Linked DNA regions of Homo sapiens. The protein of the gene in region 1 purifies or fractionates together with the protein of each later gene. This does not show direct contact. Each region holds a gene or a part of one and is shown in the gene's direction. Other genes may lie near its edges.

Region 1 (5,781 bases):
GGTTGGCCAGGCTGGTCTCAAACTCCTAGCCTCAAGTGATCTACCCACCTCATCCTCCTAAAGTGCTGGGATTACAGGTGTGAGCCACTGTGCCTGGCCCATTTTATTTTATTTATTTTTTGAGACGGATTCTTGCTCTGTCAACTAGGCTGGAGTGCAGTGGCATAATCTTGGCTCACTGCAACCTCCACCTCCCGGGATCAAGCGATTCTCCTGCCTCAGCCTCCCAAGTAGCTGGGATTACAGGCACGTGCCACCACGCCTGGCTAATTTTTGTATTTTTAGTAGAGACGGGGCTTCACCATGTTGGCCAGGATGGTCTTGAACTCCTAACTTCAGGCGATCCGTCTGCCTTGGCCTCCCAAAGTGCTGGGATTACAGGCGTGAGCCACCACGCCTGGGCCCATTTTTTTTTTTTTAAGACGGGGTCTCTCTCTGTCACCGAGGCTGGAGTGCAGTGGCATGATCTCAGCTCACTGCAACCTCCGCCTCCTATGTTCCAGTGATCCTCCCACCTCAGCCTCCCTAGTAGCTGGAACCATAGGCGTGCGCCACCATGCCTGGCTAATTTTTGTATTTTTTCTAGAGATGGGGTTTCACCATGTTGCCCAGGCTGGTTTCAAACTTCCTGGGCTCAATCATTCGATCCATCTTGGCCTCCCAAAGTGCTGGGATTATAGATGTGAACCATTGATGAACTCCTGCTCCCTGAGCTCTCTTCTCCTCTGCTGTTAGCGATCCTGCCATTTTTCTTTTTTTTGAGTTGGGAGTCTCACTCTCTTGCCCAGGCTGGAGTGCAGTGGCGCGATCTCAGGTCACTGCAACCTCTGCCTCCCAGGTTCAAGCAGTTCTCTTGCCTCAGCCTCCTGAGTAGCTGGTAGCTGGGATTACAGGCACGCACCACCACACCTGGCTAATTTTTGTATTTTTAGTAGAGATGGGGTTTCACCATGTTGGTCAGGCTGGTTGAGTAGGCCGGGTGCGGTGGCTCACACCTGTAACCCCAGCCCTTTGGGAGGCCGAGGCGGGCGGATCACAAGGTCAGGAGATCGAGACCATCCTGGCTAACACGGTGAAACCCTGTCTCTTGAACTCCTGACCTCAGGTGATCCACCCTCCTCGGCCTCCCAAAGGGCTGGGATTATAGGCGTGAGCCACTGCGCCTGGCCATCCTACCATTTTCATCTTCCTGACAGTTTCTCCTCAGACACGGGCACCTCTTTCTGTGTCTCATCCCAAAGTGTTTTTATACCCATAGCCCTACTTTGCTGTTTTTCCCATTCTGCATTCTTCCTCCACTCTGATGAGAGCTTACCTGCGACCTCTCCTTACCTCTGCCCTGAACGTAACCATCATCCTGGCTCCAGCCTCCTCACTTCCAGTTTTTAACTCCTTCCTCAGCTCAGACAGGTGGTTGTTGTTGATGAGGCATAATTTAGGTAGAATTTAAATGTGTTTTGACGGTTGTGTTTACTCATACAACCACTACTCAGAATACAGACCATTTTCCCAGGAAGTTCCCTCATGCCCATCTCCAGTGAGTTGGCACCTTCATCTCCCAGATCAGCTGCTATTCTGACTTCTGTCACTGTAGGTGAGTTCGTTCTTGGACTTCATACAAATGGAGTCATTCAGTATTTTCTTTCCTTTTGTGCCTGGCTGCTTTTACTCACCATGGCTTTTTTTGTTTTTTGTTTTTTGTTTTTTTTTGAGACGGAGTCTCGCTCTGTCACCCAGGCTGGAGTGCAGTGGTACAATCTCTGCTCACTGCAAGCTCCGCCTCCCGGGTTCACGCCATTCTCCTGCCTCAGCCTACCGAGTAGCTGGGACTACAGGCACCTGCCACCTCGCCCGGCTAATTTTTTGTATTTTTAGTAGAGACGGGTTTCACCGTGTTAGCCAGGATGGTCTCGATCTCCTGACCTTGTGATCCACCCACCTTGGCCTCCCAAAGGGCTGGGATTACAGGTGTGAGCCACCGCGCCCGGCCTACTCAACATGGTTTTGAGATTCCACCATGTAATTGCATATCACAGCTCTTTTTTTTTTAATTGCTGACTGATACTCAATTTTATGAATATAACAATTTGCTCATTCATTCTTATAATGGTGGACATTTGGTTTATTTCTAGATTTTTTAATCTATTATAAGGAAGACTGCCATGAACATTCTAGTGTAAATCTTCTTGTAGATAGATGTTTCATTTCTCTTGAGTAAATACCTAGGAGTAGAACTGCTTTTACTGTATAAGAAAGTGTCAAACAGTCATCGAAAGTGATCGGACCATCGTTTGTCCACGAGAGGTCCAGTAGGTCTACATTCTCACCAACACTTATTTTGCTTTTTGTGGGTTTTTTAGCTATTCTAGCACATGCGAAATGGTTTCATTGGTGCAATCAAGCGATCCTTCTGCCTCAGCCACCACATAGCTAGGGCTGCAGCACTATGCCCAGCTGATGTTTTTTATGTTTGTAGAGACAGATTCTCACTGTGTTGCCCAGGCTGGCCTCCAGTGATCCTTCCAGCTCGGCCCCACAGAGGTTTAATTTTTATTTCCCTGATGACTAATGATATTGAGCACCTTCTCATGTGCTTATTAGCCATTTACTTATTTTTGTGAATTTTATGTTCAAGTCTTTTGTCCATTCTTTAATAATTTTTAATATTTCATGATGAAAATTCCAAATATGCACAACCGAAGAGAGTACGACAGAGCCTTACGTGACTCTTACCTTGACTCTGTACTGTAGTTTTTCATCATTCCTTCGTCACTTGCAAATTCAAGTATTTTTCCCAGCCATTAATTGAGTTTTTGAAGATGAGGAATTTTTTATTTTGGTGAAGTCCAGCTTATGAACTTTTTCTCTTACATGTAGCACTTTCTCTGTCCAGACCGATGTTATATCCTGAGAACCTCTTCACCTAGGAAACCTACCACATATCAGACTCAGCGTGTCCATAACTTATCTTACCTCAAATCCATTCTTCTTCCAGTAATATTACATAAAGGCTACTTGGGAGTGTAGATTCTGGGAAACCTGAATCTATGTTCCCGGGCTGCAGTCTTCAAGCTTGGCCCAGATGAACTCTCTATTTATACTAAAAATATGTAAATAAATAAAAATAAAAAGAAATAAATGCTACTATATCGGTACGTTCTTAAGTGCTTTATTTTTATTTATTTATTTATTTTTTGAGATGGAGCCTCACTCTGTTGCCCAGGCTAGAGTGCAGTGGTGTGATCTCAGCTCACTGCAGCCTCCGCCTCCCAGGTTCAAGTGATTCTCCTGCCTCAGGAGAGTAGCTGGGATTCCCGAGTAGCTGGGATTACAGGCACCCGCCACCATGTCCAGCTAATTTTTGTATTTTTAGTAGAGACAGGGTTTCACCATTTTGGCTAGGCTGGTCTCGAACTCTTGACCTCAGGTGATCCACCTGCCTCAGCCTCCCAAAGTGCTGGGATTACAGATGTGAGCCACCGCATCCAACCTTAAGTGCTTCATATACATTCTCTGATTTTTTTTTTTTTTTTTTAGACGGAGTCTCGCTCTGTCGCCCAGGCTGGAGTGCAGTGGCGTGATCTCGGCTCACGGCAAGCTCCGCCTCCCGGGTTCACACCATTCTCCTGCCTCAGCCTCAGCCTCCCGAGTAGCTGGGACTACAGGCGCCCACCACCACACCTGGCTAATTTTTTTGTATTTTTAGTAGAGACGGGGTTTCACCGTGTTAGCCAGGATGGTCTCGATCTCCTGACCTCGTGATCCGCCTGCCTCGGCCTCCCAAAGTGTTGGGATTACAGGCGTGAGCCACCGCGCCCAGCCACATTCTCTGATTCTTAATATAACCTGCAAGGTTGATAGCATCAGCCTTTGCAAATGAGGAAACCGAGGCTAAGAATGAGTAAGTCATTGGCCCTCACCCTTGAATACCATACACTGAGTAAGTGGCAGGCAGGGGCCTGGATGGTGATGAAATTATTCCCCTTCATCCCTGAAGATCACGCACTGAGTAGGTGCAGGCCGGGGCCTGGATGGTGATGAAATTATTCCCCTTCATCCCTGAAGATCACACACTGAGTAGGTGCAGGCAGGGGCCTGGATGGTGATGAAATAATTATTCCCCTTCATCCCTGAAGATCACGCACTGAGTAGGTGCCGGCCGGGGCCTGGATGGTGATGAAATTATTCCCCTTCATCCCTGAAGATCACGCACTGAGTAGGTGCCGGCCGGGGCCTGGATGGTGATGAAATTATTCCCCTTCATCCCTGAAGATCACGCACTGAGTAGGTGCAGGCCGGGGCCTGGATGGAAGCCTTTCAGGCTTTACAGTTAGTCCTTTTTCTTCCTCTGCGCCCTGCTCCCTCCCTGGACAGTACAGCGTGTCTGTGATCCCAGTTGTTCACGCTGGAATCCTCAGAGCCAGTTTTGGTGTTATTTTGTTGTGTTTTGTTTTTTAACATTTAATAGTCGTTTTAGATTTACAGACAGTCACTTTTGACCATTATTTCTCCTCATCCTTAAATTATTTTAGCTATTAGTCACCAAGAGCTGTGAGTTCTACCTCTGAAATGTCTTCTGCCTATCAGCTTTCCCTTTGAAAGGCCTCATTGTCAACTTACGGTCTGTCCCAAAGCAAACAGCCAGTAATTTTTAAAACCGTTTAATCCGATAGCTCTCTCTTGCCTCTGAGATAAATTTCAAACTCTCTGACAGAGCATGTGACATTTTTGGACATTCTCTACCCTCTGACCTTCTTTCCCACCTGCCTCCCTAAGTCCCCTAACTCATCCCTATTCCAGTCCCACTGAACTGGTTATATTAGCTAAGATACTTCTTCTTGCATCCAACCCAAAGGGTTTTTTCCCTCTCCTCTTTTACTTGTCCTTCAACACTTAAAAGCTTTCTTAGGTTCAGCCGGGCGCGATGGCTCACCCCTGTAATCCCAGCACCTTGGGGGACCAAGGCGGGTGGCTCACCTGAGGTCAGGAGTCCCAGACCAGCCTGACCAACATGGTGAAACCCTGTCTCTACTAAACACAAAAAATTAGCCAGGCACGGTGGTGTACGCCTGTAATCCCAGCTACTTGGGAGGCTGAGGCAGGAGAATCACTTGAACCCAGAAGGCAGAGGTTGCAGTGAGCCGAGATGGCGCCGTTGCACTCCAGCCTGGGCGACAAGAGCAAAACTCCATTTCAAAAAAGAAAAAAAGCTTTCTTAGGTTCTCCAAATAATTTAGTTGTTCTTTCCTCCCACTTTTTATGGCTCCTAAAAGACAGAAACGTGCATATTTGTGACTTGTGGTTTTTTTAAGCATATCTTTGATTTTTAAATTCTTATTTTCATCAAGATAATAAATCAGATAGTACTAAGATTTTTTAGAAATGAAACGGTCCAACTCTGAGTCACACTACCTAGGACAGCCACTTTCACCTTCACTGTTTCTAAATAATAAATATATTTGTTTCTTCTTTTTCAATTGCCACCTCATCTTGTGACTTCCTGCTGAGGTAGATATTATAGCAAATGCTTCAAGACACACACATGCGTACACACACTCTGTCATGCAAAATACTTGTTTCCATATCTGAGTTCTCAGCTGTTCTGCACACTCCTCAAAGCTTCCGACTGTCTCTGCTGCCACATCTGAACCCAGCGTGGTACCTGGCTCTTTTTGACTACATAAATGAGTGTTTGTCCTTACTAAACAACGAAAGGGATGCTTGTGGAACCAAAACATTATTGTTAAGGCTTTGTATTATTCATTTATTTTTATTTGTATC
Region 2 (6,056 bases), on another chromosome or scaffold:
CTGTGCTTCCAGCCTTAGCTGGAGACCCTGTCTTGGGGGAAAAAAAAAAGGATAAGATGGGAAATTTTATGTTATATGTATTATTTGGCCACAATAAAAAAATGTTTTAAGAGAAAAAAAAAGATGGAGGGAAGGAAATTTGGCAAAGAAATAACAGAATTTATTTTGTAGAGTCTTGTGCACTTGAACCTCAGAAGCTTCTTTTTTTTTTTCTTGAGATGGAGTCTCGCTCTGTCGCTCAGGCTGGAGTGCAGTGGCACGATCTCTGCTCACTGCAAGCTCCACCTCCCAGGTTCACGTCATTCTCCTGCCTCAGCCTCCCTAGTAACTAGGACTACAGGCACCCGCCACCATGCCCAGCTAATTTTTTAATATTTTTAGTGGAGACGGGGTTTCACCGTGTTAGCCAGGATGGTCTTGATCTCCTGACCTCATGATCCGCCCACCTCGGCCTCCCAAAGTGCTGGGATTACAGGCGTGAGCCACCGCACCTGGCGAACCTCAGAAGCTTCTAACCTGCTTTTTTTCCCTTTGAATTTCAGGTCACAAGAGGACCAGATTAAAAATGCTATTGATAAACTTTTTGTGTTGTTTGGAGCAGAAATACTAAAGAAGATTCCGGGCCGAGTATCCACAGAAGTAGACGCAAGGTAAGGATGCTTGCTCCTGCACTGGATGGGCTGGTCAGGTGTCCACAGTTGCACACGTGGATGCCAACATGAGGTCAAGGGGCTGCTCCACCCATGGTCTTCATCCCAAGGGCCCAAGAGGAGGTTTATTTTGAGCTCTCCCACAGTTGGTAGTGATGACCAAGAGCTCCTTGTTTAGCAACTGATCTCTAGTGTTTTTTATTTTTATTTTTATTTATTTTTGAGATGGAGTCTCGCACTGTCACCCAGGCTGGAGTACAGTGGCGCAATCTCAGCTCACTGCAACCTCTGTCTCCCGGCTTGAAGCGTTTCTCTGCCTCAGCCTCCCAAGTAGCTGAGATTACAGGCACCTGCCACCATGCCCAGCTAATTTGTTGTATTTTTAATAGAGATGGGGTTTGACCATTTTGGCCAGGCTGGTCTTGAACTCCTGACGTCATGATCCACCTGCCTCGGCCTCCCAAAGTGCTGGGATCACAGGCATGAGCCACTGTGCCCGGCTGCTAGTGTTTTTTGTTTTGATTTGTTTTGTTTGTTTTTTGAGACAGAGTCTCGCTCTGTTGCCAGTGTAGAGTGCAGTGGTGTGATCTCAGCTCACTGCAACCTTCACCTCCCGGGTTCAAGCGATTCTCCTGCCTCAGCCTCCCAAGTAGCTGGGACTACAGACACCCGCCACCATACCCAGCTAATTTTTTTGTATTTTTAGTAGCGACAGGGTTTCACCATGTTGGCCAGGATGGTCTCGATCCCTTGACCTTGTGATCTTCCCGCCTCAGCCTCCCAAAGTGTTGGGATTACAGGCGTGAGCCACGGCACCTGGCCCAGTGTTTTTTAATACAAATTATAGCCTATGGATCCCACTGAGGACCTCTGTTTGTGAGACTGGGTGTGAGTTGCTGTCAGAGCCATTCTGCAAACCTCCAGTGAGGGGAAGGTTGAGGGCAGTGGTTGGTGCTCACGGTGGTGCTGCTCAAAACTGACAGGCAGACACCCGGCCTCCAGCTTGCTCTGCGTGGTGGGCAACCTGCGTGATCTGAGGGGATGGGTTCTTCTTGCTCCTACAGGCTCTCCTTTGATAAAGATGCGATGGTGGCCAGAGCCAGGCGGCTCATCGAGCTCTACAAGGAAGCTGGGATCAGCAAGGACCGAATTCTTATAAAGCTGTCATCAACCTGGGAAGGAATTCAGGCTGGAAAGTAAGTGGTCCCCCACAAGGAAGGAGCTCTCAGAGATTTTTCCTCTGTTGGAGCAGGGTCTACATGGCATCAGGCAAGTTTGACTCTCTCAGCCCTGGGGAATGCCAGACTGGGGAGCACAGCCCACAGCTTGGACTTGACCAGCTCATGTCAGCCTAGATCTGCCCTCTGCTCCAGAGCCAGCTCCCTCACTTGCTGGTGATCAGAAATGAGGGATTTCCCAGGAAGTACCATCCACCCACTCAGCAGAGAAGAAAAGCCACTAGTTAGCACCTGCAGATTCAGATTCTGTCCTTCCTCTGTCCTGATCAACACAAGCCTATGTTTACATGATTTTTAAAAAGTAAACTATTGTTATATAAAATATATGCTGGCTGGGCAAGATGGCTCATGCCTGTAATCCCAGCAATTTGGGAGGCTGAGATGGGAGGATCACTTGAGCCCAGGAGTTCCAGACCAGCCTGGGCAACAAAGTGAAACCTTGTCTCTACAAAAATATAAAGAAATTTTAGGCTGGGCACGGTGGCTCCCAGCACTTTGGGAGGCCGAGGCGTGGGGATCACGAGGTCAGGAGATCGAGACCATCCTGGCTAACACGGTGAAACCCCGACTCCACTAAAAAATATAAAAAATTAGCCGGGCATGGTGGCACACACCTGTAGTCCCATTTAGGAGGCTGAGGCAGGAGAATTGCTTGAACCCAGGAGGCGAAGGTTGCAGTTAGCTGAGATCACACCACTGCACTCCAGTCTGGGTGACAGAGCAAGACTCTGTCTCAAAAAGAAAAGAAAACTTTTAGGCCGGGCACGGTGGCTCATACCTGTAATCCTAGCACTCTGGAAGCCTGAGGTGGGTAGATCACCTGAGGTCAGGAGTTCGAGACCAGGCTGGCCAAGATAGTGGAACCCCGTCTCTACCAAAACTACAAAAAATTTAGCTGGGCGTGGTGGCAGGTGCCTGTAATCCTAGCTACATGGGAGGCTGAAGCAGGAGAATCACTTCAACCTGGGAGGTGGACGTTGCAGTGAGCCGAGATTGCACCATTGTACTCCAGCCTGGGTGACAGAATGAGACTCCATCTCAAAAAAAAAAAAAAAAAAGAAAAGAAAAACTAGCCCACCCCTGTGATTCCAGCTACTTAGGAGGCTGAGGCGGGAGGATCGCTTGAGCCTGGGAAGTTGAGGTTCCAGTAGCTATGATCGTACCACTGCACTCCAGCCTGGGTGACAGAGTGAGACCCTGTCTCAGAAAAACCAAACCAAACATATGTACGTTCAGAGTGGAAGAGACAGAAAATGTATAAAACAAAGTAAAACTCCTCTATGATGTTCTCACCCAGAAGCAGCCAATGCTATACTCAAATAATTCGCATCAGGAAGAGGTGTTTTGTTTCCACATCTGTGTGTCTGCATGTTCTACCACCTGCCATCACTGACCTGCTCTGAGATAGCATCTCACTTTTTCACCACGGCTGGAGTGCAGTGGCACGAACTTGGCTCACTGCAGCCTTGACTCCAGGCTCAAGCTATCTTTCCACCTCAGTCCCCCAAGTGGCTGGGATGACAAGCACACATACCACTCCTGGGTAATTTCACCACGTTCCCCAGGCTGGTCTCGAACCCCTGGGCTCAAGAGATCTCTACCCATCTTGGCCTCCCAAAGTGCTGGGATTATAGGCATGAGCCATTGTGCCTGGCCTCATTTGTGTGTTTTTTTGTTTTTTTTTGTTTTTGAGACGGAGTTTCATTCTCGTCCATGCTGGAGTGCAATGGTGCTATCTCAGCTCACTGCAACCTCCACCTCTGGGGTTCAAGAGATTCTCCTGCCTCAGCCTCCGGAGTAGCTGGGATTACAGGCAGGCGCCACCACTCCCGCCTAATTTTATATTTTTAGTAGAGATGGGGTTTCTCATGTTAGTCAGGCTGATCTCAAACTCCCAGCCTCAGGTGATCCGCCCGCCTCGGCCTCCCAAAGTGTTGGGATCACAGGTTTGAGCCACTGCACCTGGCCGGACCATTTGTTTTTATATGTTGGAAAATACTCCATTTTATGGATAGGCCACAGTTATTCATCTGTTGGTGGACACCTGGTCAGTTTCCATCTCTTGAGCTGTGATGTATATTGCTGTGGTCGGTTTCCATTTCTCGGGCTGTGATGTATGCTGCTGCTCTGAACACATCTGCTGCTATGAACACATCTGCTGCTCTGAACACAGATGTGCAAGTTTTGTCCTGGACATGTGTTTTTGTTTCTCGTGGGCATATGCCTAGGAGTGGAGTCTCTGGGTGACTGCTGGAGGAACTGCAGGCTGTTTCCCAACTCAGCTGTGCCATCTGCTGTCCCCCTCGAACACCCCCGTGTGGCCATGTGGCAGAGGCGCCTGGGGAGGGAACTTGTGTCTGAAGGTGCCTGAGCAGAGCCTTGGCTGTCTCATCCCATGCCCCAGCCACATGGCAAAGTATGGGCACTGCTCCGTCCTTGGGGATCAACCCCAGGATGTCCAAAGTGCACTGGGATTTGGGCAAGTGGCCTAGTGAGGCCAAGGGGCTCCTCTCAGCAGAAACCAGGGTGCTACGGGCCTGCTGCAGGGTGGCCCCAGGAATGGGTAGGGTGGAACAGGGTGAGGACTGGAATGTGGTCAGAGATGACTCAGTGGTTCTAGCCTGGGAGCTGAGCCCTGGTGAGTTCTGGGATGAGGTGACGGCCTGGCGCAAGAGCACGGGCACCCAGAGGGCCTCCCTTGCCTTTGTCTATTGTGTCATGTGGGTTGGAGAAAATCCTGGTCACCCATAACCCACTATCCACTTAGAGCCCTCGAGTCTTACCGATTTGTTCTTAACAATGGCATGAGCCTGTTCCTGCCTTTTTAGTTTAAGGCCCGTGAGCGTCTTTGGCAGCCTGTGGCTCTGGGTGGGCACCTGGCCTGCATTCACCTGCCCCGCCCTCACCTGCCCCGCCCTCACCTGCCCCCGCCCTCACCCGCCCCCGCCCTCACCCATCCCCGCCCTCACCGTCCCCGCCCTCACCCGCCCCCGCCCTCACCTGTCCCCGCCCTCACCTGCCCCGCCCTCACCTGTCCCCGCCCCGCAGGGAGCTCGAGGAGCAGCACGGCATCCACTGCAACATGACGTTACTCTTCTCCTTCGCCCAGGCTGTGGCCTGTGCCGAGGCGGGTGTGACCCTCATCTCCCCATTTGTTGGGCGCATCCTTGATTGGCATGTGGCAAACACCGACAAGAAATCCTATGAGCCCCTGGAAGACCCTGGTGAGGGTCCCTCTGTGGTAATGGGGTAAGGGGAGCAGCCTCAGCAGCACCTCAGGCAGGAAGAGCCCGAGACGGAGCTGCCGCATCAACAAGCAGTGAGGTGCACAGGTCGGCGCGGGGCAGGCAGGGGTGGCGGCTCAAGGTAGTGCAGCCGGCAGGCACTGGGAGGGCAGGTGGGGTGGTACCTCTGCCGAAGCCTTCCTGGTCACAGCTTGGTCTCTTTCCAGGGGTAAAGAGTGTCACTAAAATCTACAACTACTACAAGAAGTTTAGCTACAAAACCATTGTCATGGGCGCCTCCTTCCGCAACACGGGCGAGATCAAAGCACTGGCCGGCTGTGACTTCCTCACCATCTCACCCAAGCTCCTGGGAGAGCTGCTGCAGGACAACGCCAAGCTGGTGCCTGTGCTCTCAGCCAAGGCGGGTGAGGCCCCACTGCCCAGCTGTGGCTCCTGCTCGGGCAAGGCCAGCACTGCCGTGCCACGCTGCCCTGTGGGTGATCCCTCCCACCTGTGGGGCGAGCTCATCTTGGGAGACATGAGGGTGAAGTAGACCTCAACGGAGGGCTTGGCTTTCCTAACACATCTCACTCAAGTCATCAGCCAAGGCTCTGTGGGCTGAACCCCACTTCCAGCGTGAGCCTTGCTGGGGCCAAGGCCTGGCCCTGGTGGGAGATGCTTGGGTGCAGCAGTTCAGGCCCTGAGCCCAAGGGGCCAAGGTGGGCAGGGACATGGAGCAGGCATGGAAGGCTGGTTCTTGTCCCCCAGCCCAAGCCAGTGACCTGGAAAAAATCCACCTGGATGAGAAGTCTTTCCGTTGGTTGCACAACGAGGACCAGATGGCTGTGGAGAAGCTCTCTGACGGGATCCGCAAGTTTGCCGCTGATGCAGTGAAGCTGGAGCGGATGCTGACAGTGAGTGTTGTGTGTGGGTACCTACATATG
Region 3 (6,056 bases), on another chromosome or scaffold:
CTCACTCTGTTGCCCAGGCTGGAGTGCAGTGGTGAGATCTCAGCTCATTGCAGCCTCCACCTCCTGGGTTCAAGTGATTCTCCTGCCTCAGCCTCCCAAGTAGCTGGGACTACAGGCACACACCACCACGCCCGATGAATTTTTGTATTTTTAGTAGAGATGGGTTTTCGCCATGTTGACCAGGCTGGTCTTGAACTCCTGACCTCAAGTGATCCTCCTGCCTTGGCCTCCCAAAGTGCTGGGATTACAGGTTCGAGCCACTGTGCCCGGCCATCCCACTTATAATACTTATAGTATATTTGTTTTATGTTTATGTAATTTTATATTTGTATAATGATTTTACATTTGGAATATTTATAATAATATATAATTTATGAGGTATTGTACTTGTTTTGAGGAAATTGATGAAGTCCTATAGATATGAAATTTGGGAGATTAAATGCCTCTGTTGACCTATACATTTTACTTCTCAATAAAATTTGAGGCATTTATAGAGCATATATGTATCTGCAGCTATTTTGAAAATTGTACCATTATCCTCCTGGGATTTCTTCTAATTTTTACTAACTTTGGCTTTTTCATTTTGAAATAGTGATCACATGGAAAATGTGTATGGCTATTTAATGAAGTATACCAACCTTGTCACTGGGTGGCAGTACAGGTAAGTGTGATTATTTGTGTCACATCAGTCTCTCCTAAGAGAGCAGGAATAGGGCCCAATAATTTTATATTTTGATATTACTTTAGACAGACATGGCTGGGAAACCTTTTAGAGAAGGATTTCCCACAGCTTCTAAAAGTTTGGTGACTTCTTCTTAGAGGGTGGGAAAAGTTGACATCTGTCCAAGTAGCAGCCTCTAAATGCCTCAGATGTTACTATTAAATGAGGATTAGAATCACTTGTTACCTGGCTTGGGCATTGTATACTTGCAGAAGTTAGGTTCTTAGGGGAAGAGAAATAGGGGTTTGGAGACAGCAAACACATTTGTGTTAGGTTCCCATCTTATGCCAGATTCACAGCTTCTCTGGGATCTTGAAGAGGTTAAGTAACCAGCCAAGGGTCACACAAGCTGTCAGGAAGCAGGAAAACCAGCTATCTCAAATACTTTATAGAATTGTAGTTGTGGGGCAGGCATATTAAACGGGATCAAATTGTCTACCAAGTTCTATTATAGAACAGGCTAACGTAGAATGCCAGACTTCTCCAAACCCAAACATGAATTTTTTTTTTTTTTTTGAGACGGAGTCTCGCTCTGTCACCCAGCTGGAGTGCAATGGCATGATCTCGGCTCACTGTAACCTCTGCCTCCGGGGTTCAAGTGATTCTTCTGTCTCAGCCTCCTGAGTAGCTGGAATTACAGGCATGCGCCACCATACCCAGCTAATTTTTGTATTTTTAATAGAGACGGGGTTTCACCATGTTGGTCAGGCTGGTCTCGAATTCCTGACTTCAGGTGATCTACCCGTCTTGGCCTCCCAAAGTGCAGGGATCACAGGCGTGAGCCACCACACCTGGCCACCCAACATGAATTTTAAAAGTTTAAAACTTTTTAGAGTTACTTTTTATTTTATATTAATTAATTAATTAATTATTTTTGAGACAGGGTCTTGCTCTGTTGCCCAGGCTGGAGTATAGTGGCATGATCTCAGCTCACTGTAACCTCCACCTCGGGCTGAAATCATCCTCCTGCCCCAGCCTCCTAAGTAGCTGGAGCTACAGGCATGCACCACCACACCCATCTAATTTCTGTATTTTTTTTTGTAAAGACAGGGTTTTGCCATGTTGGCCAGACTGGTCTCGAACTCCTGGATTCAAGCAATCTCAACTCATCCAGCCCTTTTTAGAGTTACTTTTTTTTTTTTTTTTTTTTTTTTGAGATGGAGTCTCACTCTGTCACCTAGGCTGCAGTGTAGTGGTGCAATCTCAGCTCACCGCAACCTCTGCCTCCAGGGTTCATGTGATTCTTCTGTCTCAGCCTCCCAAGTAGCTGGGATTACAGGTGCACGCCACCTCGCCCAGCTAGTTTTTTGTATTTTAGTAGAGACGGGGTTTCACCGTGTTGCCCAGCCTGGTCTCAAACTCCTAAGCTCAGGCAGTCCACCCGCCTTGGCCTCCCAAAGTGCTGGGATTACAGGTGTGTGCCACCGTGTCTGGCCTAGCGTTCCTTTTTTAAAAAGGGGCCAGATGAGGTGACTCACACCTGTAATCCAAGCACTTTGGGAGGCCGAGGCGGGAGGATCGCCTGAGTTCAGGAGTTTGAGATCAGTCTGGCCAACATGGCAAAACTCCATCTCTACGAAAAATACAAAAATTAGCTGGGCATGGTGGTGGGCGCCTGTAATCCCAGGTACTTGGGAGCTGAGGCATGAGAATCGCTTGAACCTGGGAGGCAGAGGTTGCAGTGAGTCAAGGTGGTGCCACTGCACTCCAGCCTGGGCAACAGAGCACGACTCCATCTCAAAAAAAAAAAAAATTATTACACTACTTAAATTGGAATTTCTGAAATGTATTTTTGAAAGTAGTTAATCTAGAACCAAATCAGAATTTTTTTTTCCAAAGTGTATTAGTATTTCATCAAATTCTTTTCCAGAGTGTATCAGCATTTCATCATTTAGTTTCAAGGTCCTTATGTTTCAGCATCTCCAATTGCAGCTTTTTCATTTTTAAACAGGAGAAGTAATCTTTAGTTTTGACTTATTTAATGATTCATTCACAAAATCTTTTTTACCCTGTTATTCTTGTTGTATATTTCACTAATTCTTAAATCACAATGCATATCTTGCCTAGTATATCTTGCCTTAACCTCAGAGCTCATATTTTGATTTATTTCCGGTGAATTTTAAAGAAAAATTTTCACTACCATTTGTCCTTTGGCAGTTTACCCTCTGTTAATGAATTCTGGGGAAAAATCTGTCTCTGAAAGGATATGGTATCTTTGCTTCCTTTTGTGCATTAACTGATAGGCCTCTTAATAAATGCCTCTCCCTCAGCTGAAGGGTTTATTATATCTTTTATTAAACTCATTCAATTTTTTTTTTTTTTTTTTTTTTTTTTTGAGACGGAGTTTTGCTCTTTTTGCCCAGGCTGGAGTGCAGTGGCTCGATCTTAGTGCAGTGCAACCGCTGCCTCCCAGATTCAAGCGATTTTCCTGCCTCAGCCTCCCGAGTAGCTGGGATTACAGGCATGCACCACCACACCTGGCTAATTTTGTATTTTTAGTAGAGATGGGGTTTCACCATGTTGGCCAGGCTGATCTCGAACTCCTGACCTCAGGTGATCCGCTCGCCTCTGCCTCCCAAAGTGCTGGGATTAGAGGCGTGAGCCACTGCGCCTGGCCTAACTCATTCGATTTTTAGTAATCTTCCCTGCTGGAAAATTCAGTGTAGTGTTTCCAGGTACCTCTTGAAATGCTTTTAAATTTTATTTTTAAGAGCAAAACCCTGAAATGTGTAAGTGATTGAAGTTTGCTTTGCTTTAGTTTGCTGAGGGAAAATGTTTACAAATTATGGATTTTAAAAAATCATTACAGGTTTTTTGTTTTAAACAATGAAGCTGGGCTGTTGGAGTACTTTGTGAATGAACAGTCTAGAAATCAGAAACCTAGAGGAACTTTGCAGCTTGCAGGAGCTGTAATATCACCCAGTGATGAGGATTCTCACACCTTCACTGTAAACGCTGCCAGTGGGGAACAATATAAACTCAGAGGTATGACCAAAATATGAGAATTAATACTGTGATTTTCCTCTTTTTTTGAGAAGTTGGTGTCTTACATGCTTTCATATGGGCTTTGGAAATAGAAACTGCTGTCATCAGTGATGTAAATACAATATTCTGAACCTTGGAACTGCTTTGAGAATTTATGAAATCTTTTGTAATAAGTAACTGTTTTCAAGTGGGACAATGTATGTTTGTTTAGGACTGGCCCCTCTGAAAAACGGTGTAGGTGAAACTCTGATTACTGAAAATCTAGAAACATAGACTTTAAATGATATTTTTTATGTATTTCACCCCTTTACTTGGTTTAGTTTACGTGCCCTTTTTGCAGTTTTCAGTAACTAATGTACATTATTGGGATTTATTATAATGTCATTCATTAAAATAACGTATAACTTCTGTTAAGATAAATTTAATTTGTGTAGAAGTTTTTTATTTAATGAATACACAAAGTATAATGGTAATCCTAAGTGAGCGTGCTCCTGCAGATCTGAAAGTATTGATTATACATCAAATAATTAAGGGGTTATTTCTTTAAATAAGAACCTATTTTTATGAGTTGCAACATGTCAGTCTCTCATCCTCACCTCACTGCATGTAATTTCTCCTTTTAATGAAGTAACTACATCCAGCTACTGTGTTCCCTAACAACGTTGGTGCTTTGGCCTCTTTCCTGCCTCCCTCCAGTCAGGGAAGTTTGCTCTAGTGAGAGTAAGACCAGTATCTGCTTTTCAGTGATCTGATCTTCATACTGTAGGCAATTAATTGTGTTCCAGAATAAATAAATATAAAATAATTTTTACATTCTTTTAACAGCTACAGATGCAAAAGAGCGACAGCACTGGGTTAGCAGACTTCAGATATGTACACAGCATCATACTGAAGCTATTGGAAAGGTATGTAGATTTATATACAATATTAATATACAAAAATGAGGAAGGAATATTTTTTATTTTTTGCCTTTTAAAATTGAGATACTATTCATATACCGTAAAATTCACCCTTTTAAAGTATATACGTATAATCCTGTGGTTTTTAGTATATTCACAAGGTGGTTCAACCATTGTAACTTTCTTTTTTTTTTTGAGACGGAGTCTCTCTCTGTGGCCCAGGCTAGAGTGCAGTGGCGCAATCTTGTCTCACTGCAACCTCTGCCTCCCGGGTTCAAGTGATTTTCCTGTCTCAGCCTCCCAAGTAGCTGGGACTACAGGCACACACCACCACACCCAGCTTATTTTTGTACTTTTAGTCAAGACAGGTTTCTTTACTAAAAAAAGTTGTTTCTTTACTAAAAATGTTGGCCAGGCTGGCCTCGAACTCCTGACCTCAAGTGATCCGCCCACCTTGGCTTCCCAAAGTGCTGGAATTACAGGTGTGAGCCACCGCACCTGGCCAAATTGCAGCTTTCTAATTTCAGAACATTGTCATCTCTCCCACAAAAAAAATAAAAAATCCGGAGCCACTAGCAGTCACTCCCTGTTCTCTCCTTCCCAATCCCCTAGCAAACTCTCTTTTCTATTCCATGGATTTGTCTATTCTGGGCATTTTATGTAAATTGAACCATATAATATGGGGTTTGTTGTATCTGGTGTCTTTCATTTAGCATGTTTTCAAGGTTCATCCGTGTTGTTGCATGTATCAGTACTTTATTCGTTTATTCCTTTTTTAAGACTGAGTAATATTTTATTGTATAGATATACTACTTTTTTAATCCATCAATTGGTGGACATTGGGTTATTTTCATTTTGTAGGCATTATGAATAATGCTGCCATGAACACTTTCAAGTTTTCATAATGAAAACATTCATTATTTTAATGAATAACATTATAAGTGTTCAAGTTTTTATGTGAACATATGATTTCATTTCTCTAGGGTCTGGGAGTAGAATTGCTGGATCACGTGATAGTTCTATGTTTAACATTTTGAGGAACTGCCAAACTGTTTTCCAAAGCGGCCACACTTTTTTACATTCCCATCAACAATATATGAGAGTTCTAATTTCTTTTTTTAATTTCTTTTTTTTTTTGAGATGGAGTCTCACTCTGTTACCCAGGCTGGAGTGCAGTGGCACGATATCAGCTCACTGCAACCACCGCCTCCCGAGTTTAAGCAATTCTCCTGCCACAGCCTCCCAAGTAGCTAGGACTACAGGCACCTGCCACCACGCCCGGCTAATTTTTTGTATTTTTGGTAGAGACGGGGTTTCGCCATGTTGGCCAGGCTGGTCTCGAACTCTTGAGCTCAGGCAATCCACCTGCCTCAGTCTCCCAAAGTGCTGGGATTACAGGTGTGAGCCACCACGCCCAGCGAGAGTTCTAATTTCTGTACATCCTTGCCGAC
Region 4 (5,674 bases), on another chromosome or scaffold:
TTGTGGAAGAATTTTAAGAATAAATAGAAGTTTCTGTTGAGAACCATGAGCAACATGTTTCTTACAATGAGAATTGCTATGCATTTTAAAATTGCAAATATATATGAAAATTGAAGACAAGAGGAAATTGTATTTCTAACTTGATTCTGATCACTCACAGAGGTGGCATATTATTATAGTTGGGACATCCTTTGCACCCTTCATAAAAAAGGCCAGCTGACTGCTCAGCATCACCTGCCAAGGCCACTAGATTTGTGTTTACAGGGGTATCTCTGTGATGCTTGTCACATCACTCTTGACCACCTCTGTTAATAAATTCCGACAGTGCAGTGGCGATCGGAGTGTGAACTTATGTTCCCAGCATATGGAAAGCTATCTTAGGTTTTAAGGTAGTAGAAATTGCCCAGGAGTTTGACAGCAACTTTGTTTCCCGGGTCTAAAATCGTATCCCACTGAGGTGTATGCAGTGGAGCATAATACATGCAAATACATGCAAAACTCCTTTTGTTTCACCTAAGATTCACTTTCTATCTTACTTTCCCTTCCTGCCTAGTGTGACTTTTGCCCCCAAGAGTGCCTGGACAGCATTCTAGTTTCTACAAAATGGTCCTCTGTGTAGGTGAATGTGTCCCAAACCTGCTATCACTTTCTTGTTTCAGTGTGACTGTCTTGTTAGAGGTGAAGTTTATCCAGGGTAACTTGCTCACTAACTATTCCTTTTTATGGCCTGGGGTTAAAGGGCGCATGGCTCACACTGGTGAAAATAAGGAAGGCCTGGTCTTATCTTGTATTAATAATACTGGCTGCATTCCACCAGCCAGAGATTTCTATCTGCGAAGACCTATGAAACACTGAAGAGAAATGTAGGCAGAAGGAAATGGCCACATATCACAAGTTCTATTATATATTCTTTTGTAAATACATATTGTATATTACTTGGATGTTTTCTTATATCATTTACTGTCTTTTTGAGTTAATGTCAGTTTTTACTCTCTCAACTTACTATGTAACATTGTAAATAACATAATGTCCTTTATTATTTATATTTAAGCATCTAACATATAGAGTTGTTTTCATATAAGTTTAAGATAAATGTCAAAAATATATGTTCTTTTGTTTTTCTTTGCTTTAAAATTATGTATCTTTTCCTTTTCTTTTTTTTAAGAATAATTTATTGTTCAGGAGAAAGAATGTATATGTAACTGAAACTATCTGAAGAATGCACATTGAAGGCCGTGAGGTACTGATAAACTAAAGAATTTATTATTCAAAATACTAAGCAATAAGTAATTGTGATTTATTTAAAGTTTTGTCCATTTTCCATGAAAGACATACTGCAATAAAAATGCTACTCTGTGGAGACCTGGGAGTGTTGCTCAGCAGACTACAGCTTCAGTCTGTTAGACCAGCACCTTTCATCTCATTCCCATAGTTATGCTAATTTAGGATTGTGTTCCATGGACCCCATGATCACCTTGTCTATACGTTGCTTCTTGTCTGTCCATTGCTTTTGCCACACCACCTGTTCTCAAATCATCTCCTCCCTACCAATGCTGTTTATCACTTTCTTCCTTGTTGAAGAGGCCACACAACCAGACAGTACTATGCTTCCTTTTTCCTCCATACACAATAACAGAGAGAGAATATTCTAGGGCATGACTGCCTGGATCCTGGCTGTTGCTATCTTTTGTAGTGGCAGTAAGAAACTCCTTCAGACTAATGAAAATGTCAACGTGCCATTCAATCACGAAAGGTAACGAAAAATGCTCTCATGGTTCAAATAGTCCAATGGCCCATAGTGGCCTAAAAGGCAGCCAGTTGACACCTGGCCATGCTAAGCTTCCTTATACCATCCGCTAATGACTTTCCATTGGGCCCACAATTTACGGATTCATAATTTTAAAAGAGGAGAAGGCCAAGTTAGGTTCATTCCCCTTATTCTGTCAATAAAACAAATCAAACTCATGTCTATCTAACTGCTCAGGGAGGAGCCTTTGCATGAGAAAATTCTCATATTCTAAGACTGAGTCATAGAAATGAGGGTATTACTTTTCTTACTGCAATTAACCTAAACAAAAGCCATATTTTAACAAATAGATATTTGCATGGTACCCTTCATATATTCCAAGCATTTCACTCATTATTCCAGGTAGGTTAAGAGCTTCTGAAGTGTATGAAGTAAAGGTCAGCAATCCTTTGGGGTGAACAGTGGCCTCCTTTGGAGTTTGGGGGTAACCTGAGACTTCCCACCAATGTCCACCTCCATCTGTGTACCTAATTCCTATTACCTAGTTATGGCTCCTCTAGGATCATTTCCAAACACTCTGGATGTCCAGGAAATTTAAATTGTAGCTTTTGACTGAGCTAGTTTTTCCTATTTATATTAATAAATTTTCAAAAATGCTTGAAATCTTCACATTTGCAACAACTTTAGTTTTCATGCACATACAAACACAGAGAGACAAAAATTCCAAACAGACACTCTCCAAAAGCCACCACACTCTTTCACTTGCTCTATAGTCATTTAGCCAACCAGCCATGCAGAGAATATTTAAAACTTAAAGATTGAGACATTATTCTCAGTTTTTGCTGAGGCTTTGTAACGAAATTGAACACTATAAGCAGCTATTGTAGTAATTTTGGTTAAAATTGTTTGCCTGGGATATAGTATTTGAGGCAGAAGCACGTGTGTGAAGGAGGTGAGGTGGTTTGGAAAGAGTGAAGACTCGCAGCCAGATTGAATGTCTGGATAATTACTATAATTCTCCCTTCTTGGTTGAAACCATGTTCTCTCTTGATTTTTAAACCCAGGCTGCCTCTGGAAACAAGCAAACCTGAGTCTTTCTAACCTGAGTCTTCCCAATCATTAGATTTCTTTTCTGTCCTAACGATGAATGATAAAAGGACTTGATGTTCACAATTTGGGGTTATAAGGCAGGTCTGAAATCTGGAGACTCAAGATGCTGGAAGGAGTGGAAAGTTTCGATGACTTTATATGAATCACTTTGCACTCTATGTTTGGCTTGTCCTCTTTGAAACTGATTTACTAAAATAAATGTAAGGGAACTATTACTCCAAAAGATTAACTTGGCAGGAAATACCAATACTTTCAGTTTATGAAAGACAAAACTGTCTTGTTGCTACAGGAAGCTGCAATGTTCCTAACCTTTAAGGTTGGTGTTGAATAGGGTGGTCATGCCCTCCCCTGCAGGTATCTTTAGGCTCCTGTTGACCTCCTGGTACTATAACTGTTCGTCTTCTCTGGGTAGCTATTGATTTTGAACTTTAACATGCTTCAAAACTTTATTCATCAGGGAAATAGGAAAAGAGTTTTGTTACCTGGAGGAAATCTATTGTGATCTACCTGAGCTTTTTAAAAACAGACCAGGAGAAGGAAACCAGTAATTTTTAAAGAAGAGACAGAGAATGGGATAATAGTTTCACCCAGGATCTCTTTCTAACCCTTTCCCTTCAAATGAACTTATTGGAACAGAATTGGAAAGAAGAAAGGACATCTCTGCCCACCCCACAGGATGCCAAAAAGGCTAAAGAATTACCTCTGTAGATTTAAACATCTTTAATGGCTTATGTATAGATTTGCTAATACAGAGAGAAATGAACTATTAAATAAAAATCACATTTTATAATATTTTTATGGCTTAAAACATCCTTTATCTCCTTTTTGTTCTCTCTACATGATATGGTAAGTGATGAGGAAAATTTAGGCTCAGGAAGGTTAAAATCTTTCTTGGAGTTACACATCTAAGAGAGCTGCAGAGCTGACACTTGTACCCAGGTTTTCTGACTGCAAATCCAGTTTCTTTCTATTGCGTTCTTCCCCTTTCCCTGCCTCAAGCAGAAACAGGTTTTTTATTTTCAACCTTTATGTATACAGTATGTTATGTTACATCTACAGCTAAGTTTCTTTTTAGAAGAATGTGAGCCCTTCTAGCTTTGGTTTAGAGTGATTCTAGAAGCCAATTTCCTTGGCTTAGTGATTCTATGCACCTTTCCTAAACTTAGCTTTCTAAGGAAATGAAGTGTACGAGTGAGAATGAATTCACAATTTCGACATGTAGGTAGCATCCTAAAGTGAAAAGAGGAGGAAATTTGTGGTCAAAGCACTCTCCCCACCACTTAGAAACTTACTGACTGTGGGCAGCTTCCTCCTCCAAGTTTCCTTCCTGATTTACAAGACCGTGGTGTGGTCAGGATTAAACTTGAATACATGTAAGGAAGCCTGAAAGTGTCTAACACATAGCGAGTATTCAAATGCCACCTTCTATTTGATCCTTCCCCTCCAGTTCCTTAAGTTTTGGAATCTAGGTTTCTCAGTTCCAAATGGATTGACATTTGCATATCCCCATTGCACAATGGATCAAATAAACTTTATGTTATCATTTCTCCAACATAGTGCCAGTAAGCAAATCCTTTTTAATAACAACAGTATGTTGAGAAACATATCACCAAATAATATTTAACTTTGTAGCTTTGATAAGTTCTTTAGGTTTTGGTTTTGGTTTTGTTTTCTGAGACAGGGTCTTGATCTGTCACCCAGACTGGAGTGCAATGGTTCAATTTTAGCTCACTGCAACCTGTAACTCCTGAGCTCAAGTGATCCTCCCACCTCAGCCTCTCAAGTAGCTGGGACTACAGGTGTGCTCCACCATGCCCAGCGATTTTTTTTTTTTTTTTTTTTTTTTTTTTTGGTAGGGACAAGGTCTCGCTATGTTGCCCAGGCTGGTCTTCAATTCCTGGCCTTAAGTGATCCTCCTGCCTCGGCCTCCCAAAGTGCTGGAATTACAGGCATGAGCCACCACCCATAACTTTATGTTTGTTTTTTTGATGCAGTATAAGTTCAGCTTGCTTCTTATGCAGCCATACCATTTCATGTTAACTCTGATTTTTAGCAGCTTATTACATTAGTGTTTTATTATTAATATAATTTTACAGAAATTTACTAAACCATGACTCTGTAGAGTTTTAATAATACTACCTCCAAACATCATTGCAAACATCTAGAAGAATGAACAAAAATGATCTTAGATCGACAGTATATCTGTTTGTCTTAGTTTCTACACAGGATGTTCAGACATATTCCATTTCTTTAAAAAAAAAATATATATATATATATATATATATAGGCCTGGCACGGTGGCTCATGACTGTAATCCCAGCACTTTGGGAGGCTTAGGCAGGCAAATCACCTGAGGTCAGGAGTTTGAGACTGGCCTGACCAACATGGTGAAACCTCGTCTCTATTAAAATTACAAAAATTAGCCGGGCGTGGTGGCACATGCCTGTAATCCCAGCTACTCGGGAGGCTGAGGCAGGAGAATCACTTGAACCTGGGAGGCAGAGGTTGCAGTGAGTTGAGATCACGCCATTGCACTCCAGCCTTGGTGACAAGAGTGAAACTCCGTCTCAAAAAAAAAAAAAATATGTATATATATATATATATATATATATATATATATATATATATATATATAAAATCCCACCAAAAGTCTGCAGAGTGACCAAATTAGACGGCTCTGGTTTCAGATTAAATTCTAAATGTGAGAAACCACATAGCTCCCATGATCCATCCAATAATTCCTCACGTCCTCTTCACTCTTTACTCCATGCATAAAACAGAATTTTTTTTTCTCATCCTGGGTATGAAGCAATTAAT

The links.
Region 2: the proteins of GLOD4 (region 1) and TALDO1 fractionate together in Homo sapiens (co-fractionation; one large-scale study listed by BioGRID). This does not show direct contact.
Region 3: the proteins of GLOD4 (region 1) and OSBPL11 purify together in Homo sapiens (co-immunoprecipitation; one large-scale study listed by IntAct). This does not show direct contact.
Region 4: the proteins of GLOD4 (region 1) and NRG1 purify together in Homo sapiens (affinity purification with mass spectrometry; one large-scale study listed by BioGRID and IntAct). This does not show direct contact.

Annotation. Positions count from the first base shown.
Region 1 is NC_000017.11:760,936-766,716, reverse strand, and holds part of GLOD4 (glyoxalase domain-containing protein 4), read left to right. Parts: intron 1-2,877; coding exon of another isoform or gene 2,878-3,027; exon of another isoform or gene 3,028-3,155; intron 3,156-5,781.
Region 2 is NC_000011.10:758,408-764,463, forward strand, and holds part of TALDO1 (transaldolase), read left to right. Parts: intron 1-542; coding exon 543-650; intron 651-1,714; coding exon 1,715-1,846; intron 1,847-4,936; coding exon 4,937-5,112; intron 5,113-5,339; coding exon 5,340-5,537; intron 5,538-5,880; coding exon 5,881-6,026; intron 6,027-6,056. UniProt on the Homo sapiens protein: Catalyzes the rate-limiting step of the non-oxidative phase in the pentose phosphate pathway. Catalyzes the reversible conversion of sedheptulose-7-phosphate and D-glyceraldehyde 3-phosphate into erythrose-4-phosphate and beta-D-fructose 6-phosphate.
Region 3 is NC_000003.12:125,577,515-125,583,570, reverse strand, and holds part of OSBPL11 (oxysterol-binding protein-related protein 11), read left to right. Parts: intron 1-592; coding exon 593-661; intron 662-3,530; coding exon 3,531-3,706; intron 3,707-4,531; coding exon 4,532-4,611; intron 4,612-6,056. UniProt on the Homo sapiens protein: Plays a role in regulating ADIPOQ and FABP4 levels in differentiating adipocytes and is also involved in regulation of adipocyte triglyceride storage. Weakly binds 25-hydroxycholesterol. Interacts with OSBPL9 to function as lipid transfer proteins.
Region 4 is NC_000008.11:32,766,598-32,772,271, forward strand, and holds part of NRG1 (pro-neuregulin-1, membrane-bound isoform isoform HRG-alpha proprotein), read left to right. Parts: 3' UTR 1-5,674. UniProt on the Homo sapiens protein: Direct ligand for ERBB3 and ERBB4 tyrosine kinase receptors. Concomitantly recruits ERBB1 and ERBB2 coreceptors, resulting in ligand-stimulated tyrosine phosphorylation and activation of the ERBB receptors.